2 separate regions of the Homo sapiens genome follow, and region 2 is linked to region 1. The links come from fine-mapping of genetic effects on gene expression. A gene starts in region 1. The other region holds a variant in brackets. All regions are shown on one strand. Distances are from middle to middle. Region 1 holds the start of SLC22A3 (solute carrier family 22 member 3). Region 2 overlaps SLC22A3 (solute carrier family 22 member 3).

Region 1 (15,221 bases):
GATCAGAATTTGGACTGTGGATTCTAGGGAGAACCTAAGATATCTTAATATAAAAACAAAACAACACTTTGGTGACTTGCTGCTCATACTAGTTTCTTATCCATGAACTCTTCTCTTCTGCCATTCTCCTGGGCTTTTCTCTGAATGTTTACAGTAGCATCTCAGATGGAGTCTTCCCATTGCTGCTACTCAATATAAATTGTAAAATTATCTAGACAATTAGTTACATAAAACAAGAATAAAAGACAGTTAAAACAGAAATATTTGTATATACTCCTGTCATTTACATCAAATTTCCTAATGATATTCTTGTTCCCCTTCTGTTTCTTTGGGACTCATTATAAAAAGTTTTCCTTTTAAATTTTTCAGATGGATTTCACCTTTTCATGTTTAAGACATAGCTTTAAAATCTTACAAAACCAAATATTTCAGGCTGGGCACAGCGGTTCCTACCTGTAATACCGGCATTTTGGGAGTCTGAGGTGGGAGGATCGCTTGAGCCCAGGAGTTCAAGATCAGTCTGGACAACCTAACAAAACTCCATCTCTACAAAAGATACAAAATGTAGCTGAGTGTGGTGGTATTTGCCAGTGGTCCCAGCTACTTGGGAGGTTGAGGTGGAAGGATGGCTTGAGCCGAGGAGTTTGGGACTGCAGTGAGCTGTGATTGAGCCACTGCACTCCAGCTTGGGTGACAGAGTGAGACCCTATCTCAAAAAAAAAAAAGAAAAAAGAAAAGAAAAATTTTTGAATATTTCATCTTCCAGTGTTCTACAAACTGCCTCAGAAAACCTGCCTTAGTTTGTACAGGTTTTGTACAAATATGTACAAACTGCGCGAAAAATAACCTGGATGGCCATAATTTATACATTTTGGTTTCATGATAAAGGAAAATAACTTGAATCCGCTGCATTTTACAACCAGGAAATGGTCTAATGATCTTAATTTTATTGTATTTTGAGGAAGAAATCATTTATTGGTTTATACCACAATGAGAAATTATGATTTGACTCAGAAAAAATCACTTATAATTAAAAAATACAAACAAAAACTAATTGCAAAAGTAATCTACAAGTAGAATGGCGACTGTAATTTAAAATTTTTTTTAAGTATCCCATTAATACTTTTCACAAAAGTTTACATCAAACCTTCACAGTGTTATAAGTGAACCTGCCTACTTTAACAGTGTTAGGAATTTCAGTCTTAGCATTTATTGTGCCAAATCCAATGACTTCTGAACCCAGCACTATGGGCTTAGCATTGGACAGGCTCTGAGCCTGGAAGGTGAAGATTGGTCACATCAGGGTAAAAACAGTTTAATTCGACTCTTATACAACCACATGTGCAACATTATTTGGATAGTGATCCTCTGCACGTAGAGATGAAGCTTCATATTCCATTTTAAGATTTCTACAACACAAGCAAACATAGAAGGCCAAAAAATCCAGGTTTCCAAATTGTTAGAAACCACATCTGTATATGGTTAGAATGGAATATTCTAAGAGAATTTCAGTAGCTCTGTGGGAAAAAAATGTGATTCATTAGATGAGGCACTTTATGATGTGACTTAAGGGACAGGATGCCTGCCCTAAGAGTTGTGGAGGCCGATGAGGAGTATTGTGGCAATGTGGTGCTTCTCCAGCTGCATTGATCAGTGGAAGGTTGACCACCTTTTCACACTCATTCTGCCACTCTCCTTTTCTCTTCCTGTGTTGGACATTCCTAACCAGCTGGGGCCTGTTTTCCACTCAGCCTCAAAGTCAGCCTCAACACTGTGCTCTAGATAGCTCCTGCCAAATGAGAGTGGTGGGGCATGAGCAAAAGCCTAGTTCCCATCCCTGCCCAAAACTGCTTGATGAAAAGATACGAACTCTAGAATTCTCTTGTTGTAATTCAACTCTGGAATATTTAGTCCTATTTAGCATTTTCTTTTTGGCTACCCCTTTCTCCAAAGGTGACTTTAAGTCTAAGATCCTATAGGCTTTAAATATAGAAAAAGCATCTATTTCAAAAGGTCTGTAATAGTTTCCCCAAAAAATGAAGACTTTCCTCTAACAAAGTCCAAATCATAATCCACTGGCAAGTGACAGATAATTATGATTGCTGGTCAATTTAACTCAACTTTAGGGTCTATTTATAGGCCATAGAATAATGGGAGTGCTCTGTAGATTTTATTACATTCACATGCTAAGGTAAAAAACAGCAACTCCACGCCAGATAAGGAAAGAATGAGAGACTTTCAGACATTCTTATCCACTTGTTAAAAAAGTAAATATGAATTTTCATTTTTTTTTTCTGTAGGCTGGAGCACATGTACCAGTTCACCTGCCAAATTTCCCTCCCATGAATCTTAGGAAAAAAGTCTTGAAACCAACATTTATTATAGCATTCCCAAACTAATCTTCTTAGTTCTTTACTCTTCCCAAACTGCATAAGTGTCATGATGACTTAGTTCAGCAACTCAATATGTGGTGAATATTCTGGTATTGGTATATTCATTTCTAAATGCAATAAAACTACCAACTATAAAACTTCAGATGAATAAATTAAAATGATTACCTTTTTAAGAAAAGTTAATGTCAGCATGTTTTTACAAAAGCCTGCGGTTGTGGGGCAATTGATTCTTATTATTGCTATTTAACCAACATTTATTGATTACTATGTGTTGATTAGCTCTGTGCACCAGAATGTCTGGTGGCGACTGAAATGTTCTCTCTCTCTCTCTGTGCAAGCCAATGTGTTAGTTCCTGCACTTGTGGCTGCTGAGCACTTGGAATATGCCTGGAACATAATTATTCATTTTATTTAATCTTAATAAATCTACGTTTAAGTGGGCACAACATTTTGGATGGTGCAGATATAGAACAGATAACGGATGTTTCAAAGATACAAAATTGAGAGTGATTCGGTTTTTCTCTCAAAATGCCTACAATGCCATGGAAGAAAAAAAGTGCATACGTGATTTAAAACTAAGACTTCAACTGATTTTTGTGGAATTTGATAAAATGTAAAGGTTGTGTGGAAGAAAAAGAGTCCAAGAATAGTCAAGGAAATTTTGGAGAGGACAAGGTGAGGGGAGAGGAAAGGTGGGATTTGTCTTATTAGATATTACCAGATTCAGTAGGACAGAATGAAGGCTCAGAAACAGATGGAAGCAGGGGCAGGAACCTAATTTAGGAGACAGGCAATAGTGTAAGTCAAGAAGAAGTTCAGTTAAGTGGCATCTGGGCAAGTGGTTGTCCATTCGAAAGAAATAAGTAAAGTTAGATCCCACCATTCTCTGCACAAAAATAACTCCAGAGATATTAAACCTCAATTTGAAAAATAAGATTTAATAAGAATATATAGAAGAAAGTACTTAAGATCTCACACTAGAGCAGGATTTTTAGAACAAGTCTAAAAAAGCAGAAGCTATGAAGGAGGATGATCAGTTTTACTATACGACAATTTAAAATTTGTGTAGCATCCAAGATGCTAAAAGTTAAAAGACAATCCCCAGACTGAGAAGATTGTATATATACAGCTGGCAGAGAAGCAGAATACACAAATATGCAAATAATTTCCCAAAAATCCAATAAGAAAAAAAACCGCCACAAATAACAAAGAGAGCATAAGCAGATGATAGGAAGAAGCAACTCACAGAAGAGAAAACCTGAATGATGAATAAATATGTAAATGTGTTAGTCACATCCCTGACTAGATCAGAACAATGGGGCCACATTTTTCATCCATAGTATCTGCTAGCGTGGTTGAGTCTAACAAGACCAAGTGTTGGTATGGACGTGAAGCAACTCATGTGTTGCTGGTGGGATGTCAGTTGAGGACAGCCATTGACAGCAATGTCTAGTAAAGTTCAAACATGCACACTTATGGTTCATCTAGTCTACTTCTAGGCATTTATCTTTGACCAATTCTTGCATAAATACATAAAGAAATATGCACAATATGTTCACTGCAGCACAATTTGTAATTGTGAAAAATTTTAAATGAGCTAAATGTTCCCCAGTAGGGGAATGGAAAAGTCATAGGATGACCTTTCAATAGAAAGACACAAGAAGTTAGAGTAAACGAGCCCGATCTCTATATATCAAGGCTAACAGGTCTCAAAAATATATTGTAGAGTAAAAAAAAGGAGGGACAGAAAGCTACATAGAGTATGGTACCATTTATGTAAAATTTTCAAAGCACTCTAAATACTATCTACTGTTTCGTTGCAATACCTGTGTGTTAAAGGCTTCAAACAGATAAGAATCATAGCTTCCTGCGAATTACATCTGGGCAAGAGAGGCCTGGGGCCTTGCGGGTGCCCACTCAGGCCCTACTCCTGACCTCCTCAAGGGGCAAGAGGTTGCGCTCACCTCAAGCCAATCACCCTCACTCCCCAACCCACTTCCAACCACACTCTGAGAGCTGGGACCCTGGGATTCCCTGCCCGGTAGCTCTGAGCCCCATGTCCCAAAGAAAAGACCTAATGGCTGCCCCAAGGAGGAAGGGAGGAGACAGAGGATAGGATCTGAAGCAACAGGAAGGAGACTCCAGTCGTGTCTGTGATATGTCAGGACTTTATAACAATATATCCAAAGCAAACATAAGATGATGTTTGCTAATTCTGGGGGTGGGTGGTGGTTTTATCGCTCTTTTTATTATTAGCTGACTCTTACCTAGCACTTATGTTTCAAGGCCTGTTCTAAGTGATTTGCATTAAAAATGAGAGGGTTCTATTATTACTCAGTTTCACAGAAGAGGCTAAATAACTTGCCCAATATCACTCAGCTATAAGGAGGAGAGGGGGATTTGAATCCAGTGGGTCTGGCTCCCAGGTCCACCATGTAGCTAGCAACTATACTGGATCTATCTGTCCATAGGCTGAGATGACTTCCTTTAAAAAAAAAAAGTAATTAAAATTAAAATACCCTGACAACCACAATACAAAAAAAATATAGTGAACTTCCATGAAAATTTTCTTAGATATGTTAGGAGCACTGATGGGGACTGCATTGCTGAGGGAGGAAGGCCGTGGTGGTGGTTGCGGAAGACTTTAAAGAGGGGCTGTTGACATTTGAACCAGGCCTTGCTGGGTGATGGGCAGGGAGGAATAGGGGGATGAAATTCTAAGAAAAGGAAACTTTGTGTGTACAGGCATAGATTTTAAAAATTTCAAGAAGAATGTGAAGATTGGCAAGTAGTTCTGTTTGGCTGTCCACAGGGAACAATTTGAGGAGAAATACAGGTTAGGAGCTAGAAAGGGAGAGTGAGAAAGGAGGATTTTAGAAAACAAGGCAAACTGCTGAAGGTGGCACCCCCAAGCTGCACTGTGGGAAGATGATCCCAAGTGCAGGCTGGACCAGAGGACAGGTGCTGCAGGGACAGAACCCTGAGGGGAGCCCAAGGCAATCACATAGCTGAGATGAGGGGACATGTGAGTGTGTATGAGTGTGTGTGAGTGTGTGTGGTGGGGGAGTCAAGAAGCATCTGTTTATTTCACAAATATTTACTGAGCACCTACAATGCACCAAGCACTGTTCCAGAAGGTATCGATAGAAGAAAATACAAAACTGTCTGCCCTCATGAAACTTGAGTTGTAATGGAGAGACACAGATAAGATAAATAAATAAAATGAATAAGTATAAATATAAATATATGATAAATGAATAAAAACATATCTATGACAATATATGGTGATGATAAGTGCTTTGGAGACAAAGCAGGAAAGGGGGGAATGTGCTAGTGTATGCAGAGGTTGGGGTGGGTTGTTGACTGGTCCCAGTTCCCTGAAAATTCACTGACAAGAGGCAGATGGCTAGAAGAAAAGGTGTACTTATTTATTTAAGGTGTACATGGGGGCCTTCAGAAGGAAGGCCCAAAGATACAGGGGAAATTGCCTAGTTTTATGCTTAGGTTCAACAAAACATGGAGAGCCCTGTCGAAATAGGATTGGACCAAAAGGGTGTGATCTGATGCTGATACTGAGTGAGGAAACCCAGCGAGGCCGGTGGCTCTAGATTCTTCTTGGCCTCTCTGAGCAGCCTTTTTTTCCTTCTGGGTAAGGGGCAGGTTCTTCTGTGGAATGGGAGGTCTTAGGACTGCAATCAACAAGGTAGAACAGTTGATTTCTTTATGGCCAGTTTTTACACAGACAAGTGAGGGAAAATCACAGTGATATTTTTGTTTTATGACTGGCTTTGGGGAAAAGCGTTCTGGTTTCGATGGCTAGCCTGGGGGAGAATGGGACCGAGAGACAGGAGGGCAGAAGATGACACAGAGACTGCTTCTGAGGCCTTCATTTTGGCGTATTGTTTTCTGAGCTCCAACATTGGCAAAAGGGGTTCCAAGCCGAGATGACCTAAGAGTACAGGCCTGAGGAGTGAGTGGTGTCCCCGCCATACTGAGGTTCTGAGTCTGGGCCCAGGACATGGTTGCACCGAAAGGCAGGGCAGGAAAGGGGAGCTGGGTTGGAGGGGGACAGACTGAGTCTGGGGTCCAGCGGGCAGTTGAAACTGCTGGTGAGGACATGAGGCCAGTTTGAATCCAAGCAGCCTGGCTTCAAACTCCTTGTTCCGGAGGAGGAACCGCAAGTCCTCCCAAGGCCTTGGAGAAAAGTGAGCTAAAGGCAGAACGTGGGCCGATAACGTGGGGGCGTGGGGGGACCGCGACCCAGCCCGGGGAAGGCGTCCCAGCATGGACCCAGCAGCCTGGGCAGCCTGGGCGGGAAGTTCTGATCGCGCTCTGCCGAATTGGCAGGCGCAATAAGTAAGCGGAAAAACCAGGATTCAAACCAACCACCAACACCCTTCCCTGGCGTTCAGACCGAAGGTGGGTGGGAAGGCCCTGGCGAAGGAGGTCTGCATCAGGCCTGGCCTTGAGGCGATCCCTTCTCACCCCAAACCTCCTGGACGCTGAGCAAGCCCCTTCGCCTGTGTGGGTTGCCCGGCTGCCCTCTGGGGAAAGTTGGGTGATCAAATCCCAAGTTGTAGCTCTCGATGGGTCGAGGGCGATGGCCAGCGCTGTGCTGGGAACGGGCAGCCCTGCCCTGCCCTGCCCTGCCCTGCCCTGCCCTGCCCTGCCCTGCCCCACATGGGCGCAGGAGGCCTCCGCACGCGCAAGGGCCAAGGGCTGGAGGGGGCTCTCCCGGGCACAGGCACCGGACCCGGGGCGCGCGCGCGCGTCCTTAGTCCCCGGGCTGCACTCCGGGCCGCTGAGAGATCGGGTCCCAGAAGTTCCGGGAGTGGTCGGGTGACCCTGGAACTTTCTTCTTCTGGAGCCCGACCTGGGGCTGACTGCAGAGCAGGCTGCTGGCAGGGACCAAAAGGAGCTCCGCGCCAGGCCGGAGGCTGCGCCCGTCACTCGCGGTCCCGGCCGGGTCCCTGGCGCGTAGTCAGGCCGCACCGCCCGAGCCCCACCGCGCGCCCACCCCGGCCGGGTGCGTCCGGCTCGCGGCCGTCCCTCCCGCGACCTGTGGCCCGGGGCTGCTGCGGGCGCCCGGGGAAGAGAGGCGGGGGCCGCGGGGGGCAGGAGGAGCGGCTGCGGCCGGCACAGCGCCAGGGCGAGTGAGGCGGGTGGCGCGGGGGAGGCGGCGGAGTAAAGAGAGGCCGCCGGCTGGGTCCGCGGGTCACTCCGAGGCGCGGGCTGCGGGCGGCGGGCGGCGGGCGCACCATGCCCTCCTTCGACGAGGCGCTGCAGCGGGTGGGCGAGTTCGGGCGCTTCCAGAGGCGCGTGTTTTTGCTGCTGTGCCTGACGGGCGTCACCTTCGCCTTCCTCTTCGTCGGCGTGGTCTTCCTGGGCACGCAGCCCGACCACTACTGGTGCCGCGGGCCAAGTGCCGCGGCGCTGGCCGAGCGCTGCGGCTGGAGCCCGGAGGAGGAGTGGAACCGCACGGCGCCCGCCTCCCGCGGCCCAGAGCCCCCCGAGCGCCGCGGCCGCTGCCAGCGCTACCTCCTGGAGGCGGCCAACGACAGCGCCTCCGCCACTAGCGCTCTCAGCTGCGCGGACCCACTCGCCGCCTTCCCCAACCGCTCGGCTCCCCTTGTGCCGTGCCGCGGCGGCTGGCGCTACGCCCAGGCCCACTCCACCATCGTCAGCGAGGTAAGGGCGCCCCGGCCCTTTGGAAGCCGGCGGGAGAGGACGATGCTGGCTCCCAGGCGGACAAGCCGCGTGTGAGACGCTGGCCGCCAGGGGAGGTCGGTGGAGACGGGGACCGGTCGGCTACCTCTGGGGACAGACAGGATTCAGCGCACCCTTGGAAGTGCCGCGTCGTAAATGCTGGGAAAAGCCTTTCGTTATCTGCCTGAGCCCGTGAGTTAATGCACAGATACTTTGGTTTCGGGTGTGAACAAAAACTTTCTTCGAAGCCGAGTTGTAAACGCCTGGCGCACGCCTGCTCAGGAGTCAAAGACCCAGCACCGCGTTCCTTATCTTTGAGGTGTGCGGGCGCCGTCATTGGAAATTATGGTTAGGTGCGCGATAGGGAACTTCAGTCTCTGGGGTGAGCGACGTTGGCAGTTCCGGATTCGCTTATGGTCTCCAGGGTCAAAGGAAAGGGCGAACCAACGTTTGAAGGCAGCAGCAGCTTTTTTCCAGTTGCCCAAATGGTTACTCAAAATGCAAGGGGACAAAGGTCGAGGCTTTCCCGGGGAATGGTTTTGGTAAAATTGCTTTGGGGCAAAGAGCAACATCTGGGATAAGTTGGGAAAACTGAAGTATTGGATAAATTTTAGTTTTTTTTTCTGGTAATAAATTTTAGGAACATAGCGGGAGGGCCACAGCCTTCCAACGCAAATCCCCAACCCATTTACAGGCGGAGGCTGCTGCCGGCGGGTGGGCGGGGGCGATCCCCACATTTTGGGCAGTCAGTGCATTTGGAAGTTAGGGGAGCTTCCTTCACCCTTGCCCTCAGTAATCTGTTTCTGCATCCTTGCTGAAATGGAAGATTGCCTCTCTGTGAGGTCCAGATATAGAGCAGAGTCACTTTGTAATAATCGGAACTCAGAAACGGCCTCAATTGAGCATGGGTTGCAGAGATGAGCAGTTTTACTGAGCTTTGTCTACAATCACAGCTTAAGTTAATTTTAAAAAAAGATTGAATGTGATCAGGTACATTAGGAAAAAAGGTTTGTCTTTTTTTTGTGATAAACTTTAAAAAATCACCTACTTGAAGAGTGGGGAAAACACTGGATGAGGAGGTAGGAGCGCCCTTTCTGCCGCTGTTGCTGTTGGTCTGGTGAGCTTATCTCGCTGCAGTTGGGAGTGTCGGTGGTTGCAATTGTACATGTTTTATACGCCATGTGCTGGTGTGTTCGCACAGTGGATGGCTCTATGCTATGTGCTCCAGGGATAAAACCCATGGCAGGACAGCCAGGCGATGTGTGTATGTGTTTGGGATCTTTCTGTAACGCCGTGTGCTGCTGTGTTCGCACAGTGGATGGCTCTATGCTAAGTGCTCCAGGGATAAAACCCCCTGGCAGGACAGCCAGGCAATGTGTATGTGTGTTCAGGGTGTTTCTATAATGCCACATGCAAGTGTGTTCGCACACTGAGTGGCTCTATGCTGAGTGATCTCAGGATAAACCCCCCTGGCAAGACAGCCAGGCAATACATATGTGTGTTGGGATCTTTAATTTCTACTTAATCCATGGTAAGGCTGGGGACTGCTTTATAATTGGTGATGGTCTGGTTAGAGATTTCACAGTTGAAAGGACAGGGCATGGACTTGGATGAGAGAGGGCATTATCTCTGTGAGTCGCATCTGTTAGGTGGCTTCTTCCACTCCACTCAGCAGCGCTGCCTAATGCTTACTTCCCAAGTGAACCAGAGGACCCACATGGAGGGCAGACAGCTGATTTTTGGAGACATTTAAAGATGAAGAATAAAACGAGCCTCAACAAGTGCTCAAGCGAGGTTTGCATGAGTGAGTATGATCCATGGACATCAAAGAAGACAGACATAAAAATCTGTAATTTAATGCTCTGACGGATACTTTGGAAGCATTCTGGAGTTGCAGGGTTACTAGCATCCCGGGGTTACAATAAGGTGATTTTATGAAGATCAGTGGCTACTAAAATGCAGTGTGGAATGATGGAGGGTCAGGGGCTGGCTCGGTCTCCAGCTGGCTGTGTGGCTTGGGTGAGTTACTCGCCTTCTCTGGGCTTGTATTTTTCCTCTGTAAAATTAGCCATTGGATTCAGCCCGTTACAATGCTCCAAATGCCATCAGGGTCACCACCTGGTTACTGTTTGGTGTGCCCAGAACAATGATTAAAAAGTCTTTAAGAAAGTAGAATGATATTAGGAATGTACCCCGTAAAGCCCCAAAAAAGTTTTTGAAATATATTGGAGAGATTCTTTTTTGTTTTGTTTTGTTTTGTTTTCTTTGAGACGGAGTCTCTCTCTGTCGCCCAGGCTGGTGTGCAGTGGCGTGATCTCGGCTTACTGCAAGCTCCGCCTCCCAGGTTCCTGCCATTCTCCTGCCTCAGCCTCCCGAATAGCTGGGACTACAGGCGACTGCCACCATGCCCGGCTAATTTTTTGTATTTTTAGTAGAGGCGGGGTTTCACTGTGTTAGCCAGGATGGTCTCGATCTCCTGACCTCGTGATCCGCCCGCCTTGGCTTCCCAAAGTGCTGGGATTACAGGTGTGAGCCACCGCGCCCAGCCTCTTTTTAAATTCCAAATAGTTTTGTGCTTCTTTTGGTTTGTTTTTCATGTTTGGTTTCTTAAGAGGAAAACCCCCATCTATTCATAAAGTTCAACTATCCAAAACAAGTCAGCAACTCTCTGAATTCTGCATAGCTAATATTTTGCTGTCTTTGGTTCAACTAATTTTTTTCTTTCAAATTCTGTCTGATGAAAGGAACTGTAGTTCCATCTTCAGCTAACATTATGTATCCAGTGTATTTTTATAAACTTGAAGCCTAAGATACAAATCATGCAAAGGGGTGAATTGGGAGAGTTTACAAAGTGGGCGGGATGACCAGACTCCAGAATGCCTCCATATAGCTATAATACTTCATCCTTGCACCATGGTGGGAGGGGTATCATTGTCCTGGCTTCATAGAAGAGAGACCTGAGGACCTTCCAGGGTCCCACGCCATTTATGTAGCCAAACTGGATTCAAATCCGGGGGCCTTGATTGTAAGTCAGTCCACTTTCCTCCATAAAGTGCTCAAAATCCTTCAAGCAAGTCCATGAAACATAGTACTCAGATCTCTCACACTTTATAACCTGCAGAAACCTCGTTGAAACTTTGTATTTATTTTCTTACTATCATGGTCCTCCAATGGGCTACTTTGTTTCATTTTACGGTGTCAGGATCCACAGTCAGCCAGACTGGCAGATGGGGAGGCTGTGCTTTCATTTGGTGGGAATGGTTCTCTAGCCTCCTGATGTGAAAGTTGCAAAATGGTCATTTAAATCTCATACACCACCTTCGCATCTTACAACTTGAGATAGTTCTAAGACACTAAGTCAGAAATCAATGCCAAGGGCACATCCCTTTATGGCCAGCTCCTAATTTGTGTCTCCTGCTCAAGGCAAGGCAGTGGATTTATCACCCACATTGAACTTCCTCAGTGGAGACTTTTCTAATGTCCGAATCTCGGCCTTATCTTGTTGTCAGATATTGGGCAGAATAAAATACAATGTAACGCAGAGAAGCGAGTCTGACCCCCTGTCCCAAATATTTCAATTCACTGCCCAGGGAGTGTCTTCAAGATTGATGCTAGGATTTTTCAATGCTTGCTAATATGGTATGGATGAAAAAAAAAGAGCTTTTCCCTAGGCTATCACTCAGAGCAGGGCTTCAGAACACCTTTAAAAATAGACTGAATCACATTTGTTTTTCCTTTCCAGATCATTTTGACTTGGAATCACTTTTTCCCTTCCAGATTACCTGGCTGAATCTATAAAAACTGAATCCATTGTTTGTTTTTATTAGAAGAGTGTGTCTTTCCCATACTTTCTGAAACATCAACAATTCAACAAAAATTTTATGTTGGCCCTTGTCCCTCAGAGTAACTAGTCCTTTCTGTTGATGACAAAAGTGTTTTAATAGTGTAATAGGTTTTTGTTTTGTTTTGTTTTTTGACAAAGTCTCGCTATGTCACCCAGGCTGGAGAGCAGTGGTGCAATCTCAGCTCACTGCAACCTTGCCCCCCGGGTTCAAGCAATTCTCCTCCCTCAGCCTCCTGAGTAGCTGGGATTACAGGCACCCGCCACCGCGCCTGGCTAATTTTTGTATTTTTAGTAGAGACAGGGTTTCAGCATATTGGCCAGGCTGACCTCAGGCGATCTGCTTGCCTAGGCCTCCGAAAGTGCTGGGATTACAGGCATGAGCCACTGCACCCAGCCTAATAGTTTATTTTTAATGGAGTGAAAGCAGGACTCTAATGAGTGAACAGCCACCCCACTAGGTGTCTGATTCTTGGTCTAGGCAGCAGAATGGCCAAACAGATTCATGCAGCAATGCTTTCTGGACCTCAGAACAAGGAAAATATTTACAATAAGGACCTTCATTATGAGAATGTGCAAGAGTATCTCCTGCTCCTCTCTGGCAGCTGATATTTTGGATTATCAACATCAGTTCAGCTGAAGTTTATTTAGCATTTATTTTATTCTAGGCACTGGGCTAGGCTGGGGATACAAAGATACACGAGTCTTTCTCAAAACAGCGTGAAGCTTGGCAGGGAAAATTGCAGCGATAATGTGATGACAGTGGCTGTGGGTGTGATAAAGGGTACCACCCTCTGATGGGACAGAGGAGTGAACCAGGGCAGAAAGTACATTGACCTTAACCTCAACCTCTGAGTACAAGGAGGAGTCCAAGAGGAAAATATGAGGGAAAAGATGTTCTATTCTCACACCCTCTCATCTTCATTATTTTCTCTGCACCCATTTATTTTGTGCCCTCAGGAGCAGTGGTTGGTGTGCATTCTCGGGTCGCACACACAGGGTTTGGAATCAAAAGACGAGGGTTGGAGTTCAGGAATTTTCCTTTTTCACAAACATCTAGGGCCCTTTTCAGATGGTCCATGGACCACACAGAGAGACAAGCTGGGTGTTTCTTAATGAGGAGCATGATGAGAATATAATGACTGGGAGAGAATTGCCAGTTCCACCAAGCACACCCTGGAGACTCTCAGAGGGGAACATTATCCCTTTATCCTCAGACAGGTATCCCAAATCTTATCAGATGAAATGCTGCTGTTTATTTTCAGAGAGCTTTGAGCTCTCCAGGGATGGGCAACTGATAATAAAATCCTGGAATTAACTGGGGAGCGGGGGAAGCCCACAGCTGAACCACACTTTCTGGGAGTCTTGGTAAACCTTAGAAAGGAGCTTTGGGCAAAGGTAGGGGACTCCAACAGATGTTGCAGAGACATCTGTACTTTTGGACCCACGGGTTATTTTTGGCATTGACATCTTAGTAGAGTGGAAAGAATACACATGTCCTTTGGTGTCAGATAAATCTTGTCCTAAATCCCAGCTCCTCTATTAACTTGAAGGGCAAGTCAACTGAGCATCTGCCTGAGCCTCAGTTTCCTCAGCACTAGAATGGGTACAAGAATGCCTGCCTTAGCAATTGGCTTGACATATGCTTGCAAAGTGCCTGGTCATAGGTGGTGCTCAGAACAGTTGGTTCCTGTGAACACATAAAGACCCTTAAGCCAGGTGGGAGTCAGGAGGGAGGGAAGGAACAGGCTATGGGCCAGATTTGACCCTGGAGCTGTAAGTTTGCTGATCCCTGGTCTAGCATAATAAATCACTGATAAATTTGCCTTAAATATAAAGAGTCAAAGCCTTGGCCAGTTGTGGTGGTTCATGCCTGTAATCCCAGGAGTCTGAGGCCAGCCTAGGCAGCATTTTGAGACTCCAACTATACAAAAATATTTTAAAATTTTTAAAAAATTGGCCGAGTGTGGTGATGCATGCCTGTAGTCCTATCTACTCAGAAGGTTGAACCCAGGAGGTCGAACTGTGCTGCTGTATTCCAGCCTGGGTGACAGAGGAAGACCCTGTCTCTAAAAAATAAAATAAAATATCTCGGACACTAATTTGCTCTAAAGGCTGAGAATACCGATACTTTCCCACTGGACCCCACAGGTAGGTCATATTTCCCAGCTTCCCTTGAAGCTAGAGAGGCCACGTGTCTGAGTCCTGGTCAGTGATGTTGGGGAAGTGAATGTGGAACTGCTAAGCCTGGAGCCGGAGCAACCTTCCTCCTGCAGTCCCCGGAGGATGGTGGAACTCTTACACGGAAGGATATGCGTTCCTGGAGGCATGCGAGGCAGGCAGGAGCCCCACAGCTCCCCTCCACACCAATTCATCTGCACAGGAATATGGGATTGCGAATAAGAAATAAGCTTTATTGTGTTACACAACTGAGGCTTGGGAGACTGCTTGTTGCAGCTCTTCCTGTTAGGCTGCTCTGACTCATACAGCATCTTAGTGTGCTTCCTGGCAGGGCACAGGTCACGAGGCTGTGGGCACCTGACAAAATGGTATGGAGGCTGGTGCCTCTAAGAGCATCCTCCCCTAGGTCTGGTACACAAGGTCTCTGTGCCTCCACCCCATGTCTCCGCCTATAGAGGCTTTTCCCTCTCTTAGCCCCCGGGGCTCCCACTCTCCAGGCAGTCACCCTGGGACATGTGCCACAGCTGTCCTCCCCTTGGGCTCTTGTGTGCGCTGTTTCCTTTCCTTTCCTCAAAATACCTGTCTTTCCTCGGCCGGGCACGGTGGCTCACACCTGTAATCCCAGCACTTTGGGAGGCCAAGGTGGGCAGATCACGAGGTCAGGAGATCGAGACCATCCTGGCTAACACGGTGAAACCCCGTCTCTACTAAAAAAAAAAAAAATACAAAAACGATTAGCCAGGCATGGTGGCGGCTGCCTGTAGTCCCAGCTACCGGGGAGGTTGAGGCAGGAGAATGGCGTGAACCCGGGAGGCGGAGCTTGCAGTAAGCTGAGATCGCACCACTGCACTCCAGCCTGGGCGACAGTTAGAGACTCTGTCTCAAAACAACAACAACAACAACAACAACAAAAAACTTGTCTTTTCTCATGAGGCTGTTCCGTTTTGTACCTTTACACACACCAATTCCAGACACACCTTCCCCACTGCTGCCTCTACCCAGGGCTGGGCTTGGCTTCCTTTATCTGTCTAGCTGCCTTCCCTCTACTCATCTTGTGCTCACTGCCTCATCAGACTCTGAGGTGCTGGAGGGCCGGCGCT
Region 2 (15,221 bases), 88 kb after region 1:
GCTGTCACTGCCGAGCTTCCTCCCAGCCCCACCAGGCCCTCTGGTTCCTGATGCTTGTCTGTAAGACCAATGGGTACTTTAACTTTTGAAGGTGGTTTCTGGTTCCCCCAATCGGTGAGCCCAAAGACCTCAAATAACATTTTATTCACACAGACTTCTTAGAGATGAAAAGTTTCTAGAGAGCAGAGCCTTTAGGGAACTAGTGATGATGCATTCACTGAATAAATCACAGTATTATACTCAAGAGCAAATACGTTTTCTTTCTTATTGGTGTCATCTTTCCTTGTGAAATACGGCAACTGATGAAGAAGTCTCCTATTGAGAATAACCAGACGAAATCACAAGGCTAGACAAGCAGCTACTAACACCATCCCCTTCCCCCTGCCCATGGTAAACCCTGCTGGCAAATGTATTTCTCCCTCCTAAACCTGGGAGGACTCACGTTTCTGCACCCAGAGCCCCAGGTGGAAGTAAACAATGGGAGTGAGCCGATGAGGTGGGATTGCTGTTCCTTGACTCTTAGTGCTTCTCATGCTAGTCTCCTGGGGATGCAGTTAAAATGCAGATTCTCTCTCTAGATCTGGGGCGGGGCTTGTTCAGCAGGCTCCCAGGGGAGACCAACGCTGCTGACTTGTGGGTCATACTTTGAGTTGCAAGGTTGCGTACGTGGTATTTGCCAGTGTGCACATTCATGAAAAAGTATCCTGCCTTAAGCCTGGTAGATCCACAGTTCCAAATCAACATTAAATACATCTGGTATACTTAAGAAAATTCAACATAAAAAGAAATCCATTTCTTAAAAAAAAAAAAGGCAGAGCAACCATTCTCTTTATCTGAGGACCTTTAAAAGCATCTGCCTTTATGTGTCACAGCATTAGCTACTAATTACTAAAGGAAAAAGTGCTGGGTGAATTATCACCTGAAAATAAAGTAACTCTCAAATGTTATAAAACATAAGATTAATGTTGACAGCCTCTGTTACTATGACATATTGTGTGCCAGGTGTGTGTGTGTTATAGGTGCATATATGTATATATATACACACTTGTATGTATCTGTGTATATGTACACATATCTATGTATCTATATAGACAGATGGGTTATTTAAATGAATTTTCAAAACACTAATAAGGTGTGATTTGATAAATGAATAATATTTAATAATAATATTAAAATAATATATTTGAATATTATTATTCTCCTGCTACTGATGAGAAAACTAAGGCTCAAACAGTTTAAGTAACATGCTAGTAAAAAAATGTTCTGAGTAGAATACCACATGTCTGGCCTAACCCTGACTGTCTTTTTTCTGACCCGAGACCAGTCCTCCACGTGGGGAGCTCTGAACACCATATTTATAACAGATGGTTATTTATAATGTCTTTCTCTTCTTTGGCAATTTAAATGAAGACGTCAACTTGAAGAAATGTTTCACCAGGAAGAATTGCAAAGAGAGCTGAATTAATCAAAGAAAGACGAATAAAGTGTTCTTTTAATATGGAGTACATAATTGTTGATGGAAAACACAGTCTTGGCAGAATTAAAAGATAATCAAAGAGATGAATAGGGCAAATAGCAATTCAGCTCATTAAATAAATACAAGGAAACTAACCTCTGCAGTTTAACCTTGAGCGATACCTTTTCCCATGAATAGAGAGTGTCGATACTAGGCAACAAGCCTCTGAACAGATAGTGTTACCCGGAACATCACCCTTTTCTCCCTTTGCTTCAAATCAAAACCAGCATCCCCCATTTAGACAGCATAAAAGGTATGACAAAACGGGACGCCAAGTGAGACACTGTTGATTCTGTTTCTATGAAATTCTAGAAAAAGCAAAACTGTCATGACAGAAAGCAGATCTGGGTTTCCAGAGCCCAGAGTGGGGGGAGGGGACTGACTTCACTGAGACACAAGGAAACTTTTGGGGATCATGGAAAGGGTCCGTACCACGGTTGTGGTGGTGGTTATAAGACTATATATTTGTCAAAAGTCTTCAAAGTGTGCACTTAGAATTGCTGAAGTTTATTGTACATAAATTACATGTAAATATCATAAAGTGCATGTAAATGGTATGTGAGGTAATAAAGCAATTTTTTAAAAACAATTTTAAACCTGGTATAGCATTTTGTTTTTTTGTGTGTCTGACTCAGACCAGGCAAAATTTAGTAACCCTTTGGCAACAGAAAATCAGCACAGATATAGAGCTAGAAGTTATTGTAAAAGAATAATAGTGGCGGCCGCCACGGCGCAGGAGTTGCCAAGATTTTCCTGGATGAATTCCATCCAAGATACGGTTTTAAGTCTCTCAAGGCCTTTGGATGCCTAGAAAGTGGGTCATCTTTCAGAATATCTGCGTCACTGTGGAGATGTTAGTAAATCAAAGACCAGCTGGATTTGTCCTTAAATGTAGCAAAATATGTACTTGCTTGGAAGTACTCTTAATCCTTTCATTCACTGGACAGGGAAGACTGGTTTCACAGTCCTGACTCCCTTCATTCGTTATCAACACCTCGTATTTTTTTTTTGGTAGATGATATATATGAGGCAGTAAACTTGTGGTCTGGAAAAGCAGAGATCATATTACCACTCTGTTTTAACTTCTAAAAGTTTGAAATTAAGACTTATACCAGGTATTTTTATGGAGTGGATTGGAGTATAGAAGCAATTATTTTAACTATTTGCTAAAAAAAAATTGCCTAAAATATTCAGTTATTAAAGGAAAAGCATTGTTCTGGATTGGATTCTTCAGATAATTCTGCTTTTGGCAACAAGTAACAGAAAACCAACTTAAATAGGTTTGGACAATAAGGACATTCACTGGCTCGTGTGTCTGGAATTCTAGCAACAGCAGCATTCAGGGTTGGCCAGACCAGGATCTCAACAATCTTATTAAACCATGGTTTTCTTCTCCTCTCTCCACTCTGTTGACAGGATAGCTTCATCTTAAGACTTGTTGTCTCATCAGTGTAAGATGACTGCTAAGTTGTATGTGAGCCCACAATTTCCTCATTCATTCCTTGAAGGAAGAAAAAAGATTTCTTCAGGAACTTCTGACTTAAAAGCAATGAAGGACTTTCCCAGAAGTCCATTTCTCATTGGCCCGAATTGGGTTGTATGCCCATTTCTCATTGGTTCAAATTGGGTCACGTGCCCAGTCACTGACATGGAGGATACGATTTCCCTAAACTAATCAGGCCTCCCGCTACAACTAGAAGGAGACTCAGCTCCCACAAACATATGAATTGATGGTGCGGGAGAGTGTAGTGGGAATTCTGTTAGGAAAGAGAAGGAAGTCAACAATCGGGTACGCTGTGTCTAATTTAAGTCCATGACTTTAAAAGTGAGCTTTTTTTTTTGTTACAAAAATAATGTAGGCTTAATTTTTTTTTTTTTTTTGAGACGGAGTCTCCCCGACACCCAGGCTGGAGTGCAATGGCACGATCTCGGCTCACTGCAACTCCGCCTCCCAGGTTCAAACGATTCTCCTGCCTCAGCCTCCCGAGTAGCTGGGATTACAGATGCCCACCACCAAGCCCAGATATTTTTTGTATTTTTAGTAGAGACGGGGTTTCACCATGTTGGCCAGGCTGGTCTCGAACTCCTGACCTCGTGATCCGCCCGCCTTGGCCTCCCAATGTTAGGCTTAATTTTTAATTTTCAGAGATTATTTGTAGCTGAAAAGAAGAAAGTAATTAATGAAATGATACGGCATACTTTTAAACAATAAATATCATATTCTACATACTGCAGACACATTACCGCATAATGGTTAAAAATACAGACTTTGCTATCAACCTCCTGGTTCATCTTCTTACTGTCTGTGTGTCCTCCTTGGGTAAGGTACATAGCTTTCCTCCACCTCAACTTCTTTCTCTCTGTAATAGGAATGATAGTAGTATCTGTACAAGTTTCTCCAGCACTAAGCCTCTCATTCAGGGGTCAGCAAACTACAGCTTGCAGGCCAGACATGCAGGCAACCTGTTTTTGTAAATAAATTTTATTGGAAGCCATTTATGTATCGTCTATGACTGTTTTCACACTACGATGGTAAAGGTAAGTAGTTCCAACAGAGGTCTTAGAGCTCACAAAACCAAAAACATTTAATATATAGCCCTTTGCAGAAAACGTTCGCCAACCTCTAGGTTAATACATAAGATCTTTATTTTCTTGTCAAAATCTAACATGTCATAATTCTGTGGTCATTGAGTGACTGGAGATCTGCCAGAGAAAGGCAATTATCTACAGAGCTAACATGAAAGCAAGAGATGCTCCTTTATTTTATCACTTAAAAACAGTGAAGAATCATGAACAACTGAAAAATCTACAAATGTGTTTAAATGTCAAATTAGGCTGGGCATGATGGCTAATGCCTGTAATCCCAACATTTTGGGAGGCGAAGTCAGGAGGATTGTTCAAGCCCAGGAGTTCAAGACCAGCCTGGGCAACACAGCAAGACCCTGTCTCTACTACTACTACTACTACTACTACTACTACTACTGCTACTAATAAGCCAGGTGCTGTGGCATGCACCTGTGGTACCAGCTACTCAGGAGGCTGAGGTGGGAGGATTGCTTGAGTCGGGAGGTTGAGGCTGTAGTGAGTCATGATTACACCACTACACTCTAGCCTAGGTGACAGAGAGAGACCCTATCTCAAAAAAAATTTTTTTAAATTTTTTTAAAAAGTCAAACTATCTACCTGAACTGACCAGAGATCTTGAAATATGTGATGTAGGATTTCCCTTCAACTCTGGGATGTTGGAACTGGAAACTTGAGTGAGAGTGAATTTGTTCACACTCATAGCTAGTGGATAGAAGTCATAGCTCTCAGCAGAAGTCTGAAGAGGAAATAAAAGAGAGCCAGTAATAAATTGCTGTGAATATTTCTTTTGAAAAGCAAAGAAAAAAGTATTGCCACCTGTGTGTGCTGAATGGACAGTGGTATTGATATGTAGACAAGGGATCCTGTCAGGGAATCCCTGGAGAGAGAAGAGTCTGAGACTGACACTGCCCGGCAGCCCCAAGTCTGAGTTGTGGAAAAGCCCTCAGTAAAAGGAAAAACTCATGGCAACGAGTTGGTGGTGATACTTTCATGGAGGAACATTGTCCTTGCAGGATGGGTGGTTTTAATCCTGAATTTAAAGATCTTTAAAATCTAAATTATCTAGTCAAATTTTTTTCATAAAACAATGTTTTAATTAAAGATTCAGTTTTAGGTCAAGTGCACAGTGTCTTTCTTTAAAAATATTTAGATGTGGCCATCAACTATCAAGAATGTTTCTAGAATGAAATATATTCAGCAGTGCTGTGTGGGGATCAGGAACACAGGCTCCACCAATCAGTTGCCTGGTTTCAATTCCTGGCTGATTTACCTGTGTACTATTCACTCCTGAAAGTCCTAAGCCTTGTTTTCCTTATTTATAGAATAAGATTAACAGAAGTACTAACTTTATAGAGCTTTGATGAGACTTAAAATAATCCACGTAAAGTGCTTAGTCTAGAATCTAATATCACACACTCCATAAACACTAGCCATTTTAATGTATTAACACATAGAAATGAATTGTAGAAAACATTTTGGCAACAAACTATACCATAATATATATTTGTAATCTATGGAGTTCCTATCTTTCACTTTTGATATTCCTGTCTTGTTTTTTGAGCAGCAAAGGTTAAGGTAGACACAGAAAAATCCCTCACTGGGGTCTTCAAATTTAGAAGGTTAGCTCAGGGGTCATCTTAATAGACATTATATTAGTTAAGATCCAGGTCAACTTGCTAATGAAACAAGGCCCCAAAAATACAGTGATGAAAAAGATAAAAGTGTCTTTCTCTCTAGCACACGCACACAGAGGTGAGCAGCCAAGCTCTAGTGAGGCAGCTCTACTCCATGAGTTCCATTTATCTTGCATCTCCACCATCGCCTACACAGGTGGTATGGTTGAAGCTCACCAGCATCTTCTTCCAGCAAGTTATTACCTTTTTAAATGCAGAGACCTAGAACTTATACACATGACCCCTACAACCACCTCATTGCTGAGGTCTTAATCACAGTGCCACTCACAGTTGAAAAAGAGGATAGAAAAAATGACTGTCACTAGGCTGCCATATGCCCAACTAAAATTCTACGTATTCTCAAAAGAGGGAAGGGAAGCATGGATGGTGGAATCCATCAGCAGTCTTCCACGGCGATTGTCATGGAAACTATTGTTTTGTTGACTCTAGACACTATTGATTTTAAGACACATAGTCATTTTATGTACCACTAAGTAAAGGAAACCATGTTGTTTAAACTGGGACACATTTCTTTCTTACCAGCTCAGTTGTAGGACACCTTCCAATTAAGAGATGTTAAAATGTAGAAAACCAATGTGTCTTGGTATAGAAGAAATACAGGATTGTGAAGACTTTGGAAAAGAAAGTGACCAAAGGCATTCATTTTGCAGTCTACTTTTGTGTGTGTGTGACTTTCCTTGGAGCAAAGATAGGCATAAGATATCAAGCTTTGGTTGATCTATTGAATTTACTGTTTAGAATCTGTGATTGACAAGGTACTATCAGTGTGTGTATGCTCTAAGTCAAATTCCTGTGATTACTGGTAGAGAGACTTTAGCTCAAAGCTTTGGGGAAAATGTGCCTAGATTTTCATTCAATCTGGGCCAAATCTGGAGTTGTACAAATAGATAGCATCGGTCTTGTCCTTAGTAGCCAGCATTTTTGTTTAATAGGAGGAGAGAAACCCAGGACGACACTGAGGAACAGATATGACCAGGGCACTTGACTTCTTGTTTCAGCACTCAGTCATTACACAAACAGTTGTTGAACACCAGGCACTTTGCTTGGTGTGACAATGCACTCCCGCCTTCCAAGAGCTCCAGACCCACAGGGGAGTGCTGTTGTACAGGTGCTAGGATAGAGGTCCGGGGAGTAGAGGCAGAATTTGGGAGCCATCAGTTCTATCTGAGGCTAGGAAAGGCTTCCCAGGGGAGGTAAAATCAGGACTGAGGAGGTCAAAGAGCCCTCCATGCAGAGGTAAGAGACTGACAAGCACAGGAAACTGGAGCTGCGGTCACTGCAGGGTATCATGCTCTGATGCTTCCGCATGTTAGACTGGAGGCAGGATGTGGGGATTGGGGGGTGTCCTCTCCAGCTTCGCTTTTTTCAGTGTTTTGTATGTAGTTGGCCAATAGCAGTATTTGTTGAATTGAATTGAAAAGACCAGTTTCTTGGATGGCCAGCTAGAGATGAGCTGAATTTTTCTGGATCAAAAAGATGTTAGATTACAATAAATGGGCAAAAGCAAAATAATACCTTTGGTGCTTACTCTTAAACTTAACATTACTCTATTTTGTTTGTGAAAGTCAGATTTGAGGATTTAGTTTATAAAGAAACCCTTAATTGGTTGGATCCCACTTGCTTCACCCACCCTGACTCTCATTTCCCCCAATGTAATAAATGTGCATATGTATTTAGAACATACAGAGCAGTTTAACATAAAGTACTGAAATTATCCTAAGAACAGATTCTCAGTGCAGCAATCCTATCTTTGTGAATTTGATGTGTTCTAAATGCAAGAGCAGAAGTGTTTTAATTGTCAGGTTTTAAGATATTATGAAAGCCCCTAGTCACTTCAGTAAGATCATTTGATTCTGGTTAATGACAAGTCTATACTATGCAGGTTTTTTTTTTTTCTGTCTATTGCTACTGAAATCTGCTTTTCTTATATAGATCACTGTTACAGATGAGGAAGTTAGTAATCCATCCTTTTTAGATCTGGTGAGAACTCCCCAAATGAGGAAATGCACACTTATTCTTATGTTTGCTTGGTAAGTTTGACTTGTGATGGATTTAAAAGCTTGCGTTAAATTTACAATACATCCCTTCCTTCAAATCAGCTTGAAGTTATCTCTTACTTGTTCTCTGGTGTCTTTCAATGTTGCTACAGGTTCACAAGCGCAGTGGTGTATCAAGGACTTGTCATGCGCCTGGGAATTATAGGGGGCAACCTCTATATAGACTTTTTCATCTCGGGCGTGGTGGAACTGCCAGGAGCTCTCTTGATCTTACTAACCATTGAGCGCCTTGGACGACGCCTCCCCTTTGC[G/A]GCAAGCAATATAGTGGCAGGGGTGGCATGCCTTGTCACTGCGTTCTTACCAGAAGGTAATCTTACCCCACATCTGTTTGGCAGCCAAAGGACTTGAAAACACCTAAATCCACAATCAAGTATAGGGAGCCACTTGTTCTTAGGAAATGTGCAATGGAATCACAGTCTTTCGTGATGTCACTCCATTTTCTGCTTAATCAGCATAAAAACTTCGAAGTAAGAGATTGGTTCTGTAGATGATTCTCTTTTCTCAATTGCTAGGATCATTTATGAATGAAATAGATATTGTGCCCAATCTAGCTGATAGCGATGTGGTTTCTGTTACTCATCTTTATGTGACTTACTTTTGTGATATCTCTGATGTTTAACTTATTTCCTGAACCTCTGCCATGCTGCTGGCACCATGCTAAACGCTGAGGTTACACATAGAAGAACGCAGTCTTGACTTCGAATGGTTCACAATCTATTAAGGGATACAGATACTTTAATATTGTCACGATTCTTATTGTCATGAATTATTTGTGAGATTTAGAAACTAATTAAACTATTTACAAGATTTAGAAATATAAAAAAATAGATTGGGGAGGAGTGATCAATCCAGAAGGGGATTCAAGAAAAGCTTCCCAGCAGTGGGAACTAAACATGCGTGAAGACTCAAATGTGCCAGATATCAGGGAGAGAGAGGACGGACGTTTCCAAACTAGAGAAGAGTTTCCAGAAGTATGAAACACCTTTGTGCATGCAGGAACTGAGGGTTCATTGCTGTGACTGGAATCCAGACAAGGAGCCTGAGAGATGATCTGTCACCAGCATGACCAGCCCTGCAGGTGGTCCTGTGAGCTTGCGGAGGAGGAGGAGTGAGTTTGGCATAACTGCAGCAGTTTAGAGATGGCTATGAGCAGGGGGAGATGCTGAGAGCAGGAGTTACAATTGGGGCAGTCAGACCTAGATGAGAGAGGGTCATTTCATTTCAGAGATGTTGCAGAGTTAAATTTTTCAGAGCTCCATGCCTGGTAGATGGGGTGCAGGCCAGAAGGAAGCAGAGGGTGCCGTGACTCCTGATGTGTGGTGAGCAGCACCCAGAAGATCCTTACCCTAGAACACACCAGGAACTGGGAGGAGGAGGGCTTCACATCCCAGGGGATGTGTGAAGTAGAGCAAGTTCATCATTCCCCTCTTCCAGGAAAGGCAAAGTGGGGATTACAGAGAAAGCTGGATTCTCCAGGCATCCTTTGTGTCTGCACAAAAAAGGCTGTCTTTCTTTGAGAATCCTCTGAGGACCAGCCAAGAAATGGACAATATAGTGGGAGTCAGAACAGTCAGACATTTACAGATGAGTTTATTAATTAAATGAAGGTTTATGAATTCTTAAAACACGAGGTAGGCCCTATTTGAATAAAATTACAGGAATGCCAATATTCGGAACACACACACACACACATACACACACACACACACACACACACACAATGTACAAGTCCCCTGACATGTTGGAATGTTTGATGATGAACAGCAACCACCTATTTACATTTCTCTTGTTTTCCTTGAGTGCATTCGCTTCCCAGGGCTGCTGTAATAAGTACCACAAACTCACCGGCTTGAAACAACAGACATTTATGCTCTCAGGGGTGTGGAGGCTGGGAGTCTAGAATCAAGGCATCCAAGGGTGCTTATGTCCAGAGGTTCTGGGGAAGGGTCTCTTCATGCCTCTCTCTGGCAATCCTTGCAGCTCCTTGGTGTCACTCCTATCTCTGCCTCCATATTCACAGGACATTCTCTTCTCTGCTTGTGTCAGTGTCACCTTGACTAATTACATCTGCAAAGACCTTATTTCCAAATGTAGTAGCCTTGAGGTTCCAGGTAGACATGAATTTTGGGAGACACTGTTCAACCCACTACATGGAATTAACATATTATAAGAGTTGGAGGATCTGTACAATAGCTATCTCTTAATACGTATCTATTTAGTATCGACTAATTGCCAGCCACTGAACTAGGAGGGGAATGGAGAGGTGAACAAAATAGACATAATTCCTGCCCTCAAAATTGTATAATTTAAGAAGAGTGAAAAATCGCAAACATTGGAGACGTTACTGTTCTATTTTACTTTGGTACTTTGGATATAACATACAACTGTAGCTCCCTGAGATGAAGTCTTCTGTTCTCATCGTATGTGGACTAGGAATGAATGAAATATTCATTGTATATGAAATTAGAAATGCAGCGAGAAAGATGCATGCTTCGGTGTGTCCCCTCATTTCATGATATATATATATACTTTACTCTATAAGATTTTCTCTGGTCCTAGATTGATTGGGATGACTTTAATGTTTGTTGCATTCAGAATGACCCCAGAAAGCATTCAAGGCTGTGTGTCCAAATCAAGACAGAAGTAACTAGCCGGATAGTCATATAACTATTTTGTAGAGAATTCTTTCATATATTGGAAAATATAACACCAAGAACAGACTGTTCTCCCTTGTCTAACCAGTTTTATTTTATAGATATAATTTCCTGATTGAAGCTTTAGAATTGTTCTCAGCAAGACTGAAAATGAATTGCTCTTATTCTAGACACATTTTATTTTTACCTTCTGCAGACTTGGCTGCTTTTATAGTCATATGTCAGTCATGACTGACTGGCAAGAATACATTTCAAATCCCTAAACTGAGTTCCAAATATTAACAGACGATCCTCCCTTGAGTCCTTCCAATTTAAAGACCCATTGGACTTGATTCCAGCCACTGGTTAATTAGCACGAGAAAGGCTTTTCTGCTCAGCCATTCCTGACGTCAGTAGTAGGTCGCCAGCCCCTGGGGAGAATACAGATGAGCTTTTGGAGAAACCAGCTCTAAAATAGTCTCACAGCAAACACTTTAATCAGCTTTCCCTCCACTCGACCCAACTTTTCATGGTCTAAAGAATGGAATTCTGGAAGAAGAAATAGTAGTTCTGGTTGTATTCTCATCTCAGACTCACTGCTTCTAGTCCAAATTTCTTAACACTCATTAATGTCTGGAAAATAAAGACCTTTCTTTATCCATACCTGTCTGCCATCTTTAATTTGAGTTTATTTAGGATGACCACAAACCTAGCAGTTTGGATAAGTCGTCTTCTTGAACTGGAAAACTTGTCTTCCACTTTTATTTTTCTTTAATTGAAAAGTGAGTTCATGTATCTTAATTTAGACATTTCTACTAGAATTTCTCACTAAACTTTATTTCAGAACTCAGAGTAGATGATCCATTCAGAGGACATATAAAGTTTTGTTTAAGTCCTGCATCCTTTCTTCAGGAATTGAGGTATTATTCCCAATCATCTCTAGTAGCTTGACCAAATCCACATTCAGAAGAAAACATTTTCTTTGTTCTCATGTAATTCCATGGAAGACAATTTTAGTTTCAGTACTCATTTTTAAATTGCCCTGTGGTTTTTGTCATTGCTACCAAAAGATGTCTATGGCCACCTCAAAATGAATTTAGCTTATTACTGGAATCAAGAATTTCTTTGTGTGTATATATTTATTCATACTTCCTACAGTTTTCTTTTCACTCTTTAGTTAATGAACCATGCAATGCCTTAGAAACTTTTCTTTGGTTACACATTTCAACAAAATCTCTGTTCCAGTATAGTTTGATACTGGACTCTACTGCTTGGAAAAGAGTTGGGAGTCTTTCAGATTAAGGTCAATGTTCCGGACAGACCACATCTCCACAAATGGGGCAACTTGGCATTTTCTGAATGTTTTACTGAATTGACTGGCTATTTATCTGAGTTAACCACATATGTTTATCATGGTGGAGTGTGTGTGTGTGTTTTAATTTGGTCTCTGGCTTTTGTTTGGATTTTTCCATGAAACACCTTGCCTCGGTTATAAACCCAAATTGCCCTTGAATTTGTCGGTGGGACTCAATTTTAGAGCAATCTTGATTTAGTGAAAAGAAACATACAATGGAAGAACCCAACCTGGATAGTGAAGCTGTTTCCTAGGTAGCAGGCAGCCTTCACTGCAGCCCGGGAGTGGCAGGAGATGGTCCCATCGGGCTGGGACCCAGGGAATCTGAGTCTCTGCTCCCACTTTCCCCTTCCAGTACCACATGCTCATTGAAAGATGGAGTGGAATGCATTACCTAGTCTCCACTCCCCCCTTTTCTTGGTCTTCATAAAGAAGCAAAGCCTAAATAACACATGTTGACAAACCTTCTGCTCCAGAGCAGACAGTGGCCCAGCACATCAGCACAACCCTGGCCTCCTCACTGCCTGATATAACCGTTAACGTGACAGCTACAAGGGTTCTCATGTGGGAAAAACATCAAGTGCACCAGGATGTCCTTGGCCAGTTTGCAGTCAAAATATGTAAACTTCAGACTCCCAGAAATGGTTTGGATTCTTGAGCCATCTTTTCCTTACACCTGTGCTCCTGGGCAATTGTTTTATTTAATGAATTTTAGCTTTTTTTTTTTTTTTTGACTTGGCTATTCTCTAGAGAGAACACACAGAAGTCTACTGGGCTTGATTCTCTTCTTTCATCCTCCTCATTCATTTCTACTAAAAAATTATATATTCAGGAAGGTTCAATAATTCCCCTAGGAAACAGGAGGACTATTTAGTGCTAAATGAACATATGTGTTGGATATAAAGGGAAAATGAAAGGCACATGAACACTGGACATGCTTCGTTTTGCTTTGGAGAGCAGATATGGTCTTGTTCATGCAGACATATGTCCTCAATACCAAATCCCCTAGGAAAGGATGACATCAATTGCACAACTTCTAGGAAAGCTAGAGCAGTGACTTTTTAGAGTAAAAATGGTTAACTCCTCTGCCCTTAAAACATAAAAGAAAGAAAATATTTAATATAGAATGTTTGGCATTTCCCACTAGTTAGTAGGGAGGAAAGGAAAATTTCTTCATACAACCAGAGCAGTCCTAAAACAGTTCATTTTAAAATGGACGAACCAATTAGCATTGATGAATGTGGCTCCTTCTGGATGGTTTATTGAAGGAAGTAGTACAATGGGGGATGAAGAAGACAATGAGTGACATTTGCCTTAGTGGTAACACACAGAATAGATGTCCCCTTCCAAAGATCCTGGTCCTCAAAGCTTGCTCCACTCTAGAAACCAAGGTCAGCTCACGTGAGGAACTCCCCAGGTGTGCTGGGAACGGCTATTCCTTGTGTCACCACCGCAAGGTATGCACAGAAAGGACAGCTGGGCACCAGCTGTGGGAACGTGGTGGCTCAAAGGCATGACTGGAAACTACCACCTGGACAAAAAGCCAGTGTGCTTTGGCTCTCTAGGAGGTCATTGCCTGGAACAATGTTCCAATGTAGTGGCTGCTCATGCTCAACAAACGGTTCTTGAATTGTACTTCCTATAATCCAACCTGCTCAGAAAGGCATCTAGCGCTCTAAAATATTAGCTATCATCTAGTTTCATTGTTGTTGAAATTTGGTTACATTATTAGAAAGTTCTATCATTTGTGCTTAAAATTGGCAAAGACTTCAGACTGGAGGCCACTAAGCAAATACTTTTTGTTGTTCTGTAAAATGTTAATGAAATCAGACCCCTAACTCCTCCCTTTCAAACTTTCTGTGTTTGCAGGAATAGCATGGTTGAGGACCACAGTGGCTACATTGGGAAGACTAGGGATAACCATGGCCTTTGAAATTGTTTATTTGGTAAATTCAGAATTGTACCCAACAACATTACGGTAATTCTAACAAACGTTATAGTTTCTCCTAAGTAACTCTGTAGACCAGCGTTTTAAGTTGATTTAGTTAAAAACTATGAAGTCGTTTCCTTAGCTCAGTGATATATTAGCCTAGGCTGAATCCAGCTAGTAAAGAAGATATGCTTTGAGTTATCACTGCTTTCTGCATTGCTGCCTGCTGCATTTTGTGATAAAAGTATTTCTCATATTAATATCTTCACACACTGTTACGGTTTTGAGGAAAGGCCCTTAACTTGAAACCAGAAGACCTCTAGGTGCCCTTGCTTAGACTGTGGGTTAAATCTGTATCCATCAGCATCACCTGCTGCAAGACTATGGCCTCTCTTTGACTGCATTACATGCATTGCAGTGGTGAGCAGCTGGTTATGAAGGATGAAATGAAACAGTGTGCACGGATTAGTGCAAATCAACCTCCTCTGCTGAGGAAGCATTCCCTGGGCACACTTCTCCCTCAGATGAGGAAACCAAAGTAGCACAAAGTGACCCAGAGCAGGCAGGGCAGTGGGTTGCTGATGGATAACACCCTCCACCCACGCTGGAGACTTCCTCACTAGCCTTACTGTGAAACGTGCAGAATGGAAATGTTTTGCTTAGAGTTCTGAGAGTAGTCGTTTTCAAAGTTAGAAAATGCAAAGTATCTTCACACTTCCTTTGGTTTTTTAATATGTCTGAATATGTTGATTATCTTGAAGTCACTTGTTGAAATAGTTTTCACTTAAAATTACTTTTCATTCAACAGAAATTTCGGAGTTTCGCTCTGTTCAGGTCTGTGTGATTTTGGGGGAATCATAGCCCCATTTCTGCTCTTTCGGCTAGCAGCCGTGTGGCTAGAACTACCTCTGATCATCTTTGGTAAGAACTCATTTGCTATTCTTAAGAGCCTTCATCTACATTCTTTGTACTAAAAGAGACCTATAATAATTGTTAGGTTCAATAATGATAATGATAGTCATTTATCTTATTATAATAACTATTTCATTGATAATTATGATATTAATTTCATCTTATTATAATAACTATTTCAGTTTTGAGAGCCAATTCAGTTATAATGAATGGTTTTAATTTACTTTATATTAAAGGGTGCTGATAAATAATGTTCAATTAGCATTCTTTGGGTTCTGAGTTAAATGCTGTGAAACTCTTATGGTATTGGAGAACATAACCAATAATTTTCAGGGGACTAAATTAAATATTCAATATGTTTAAAAATGAGGGCCAGGTGCAGTGGCTCACACCTGTAAGACCAAAATGGGAGGACTGCTTGGGCCTAGGAGTTCAAGACCAGCTTGGGCAACATAGCAAGACTGCCTTGACAAAAATTTAAAAATTAGCTAGGCGTGGTGATCCATGGGTGCCTGTAGTCCAAGCTACTCAGGATGCTG

The links. PIP is the estimated chance that this variant, and not a neighbour inherited with it, causes the effect. A credible set is the group of variants that fine-mapping cannot tell apart.
Region 2: its variant is the best candidate, but not a certain one, in a credible set for the expression of SLC22A3 in unexposed skin (GTEx, PIP 0.80).

What each region holds. Positions count from the first base shown.
Region 1 is chr6:160,340,768-160,355,988 of GRCh38, forward strand. SLC22A3 (solute carrier family 22 member 3) reads left to right here and starts at 7,611. Exons shown (of 11, transcript NM_021977.4): 1 at 7,611-8,081. The coding sequence starts at 7,653.
Region 2 is chr6:160,429,052-160,444,272 of GRCh38, forward strand. It overlaps SLC22A3 (solute carrier family 22 member 3), which reads left to right. Exons shown (of 11, transcript NM_021977.4): 6 at 7,729-7,826; 7 at 7,946-8,160; 8 at 13,710-13,818; 9 at 14,579-14,691. Among named protein-coding and RNA genes, the nearest start is that of SLC22A3, 88 kb to the left of the region's middle. The variant G/A (reference allele first, on the strand shown) is at 8,105.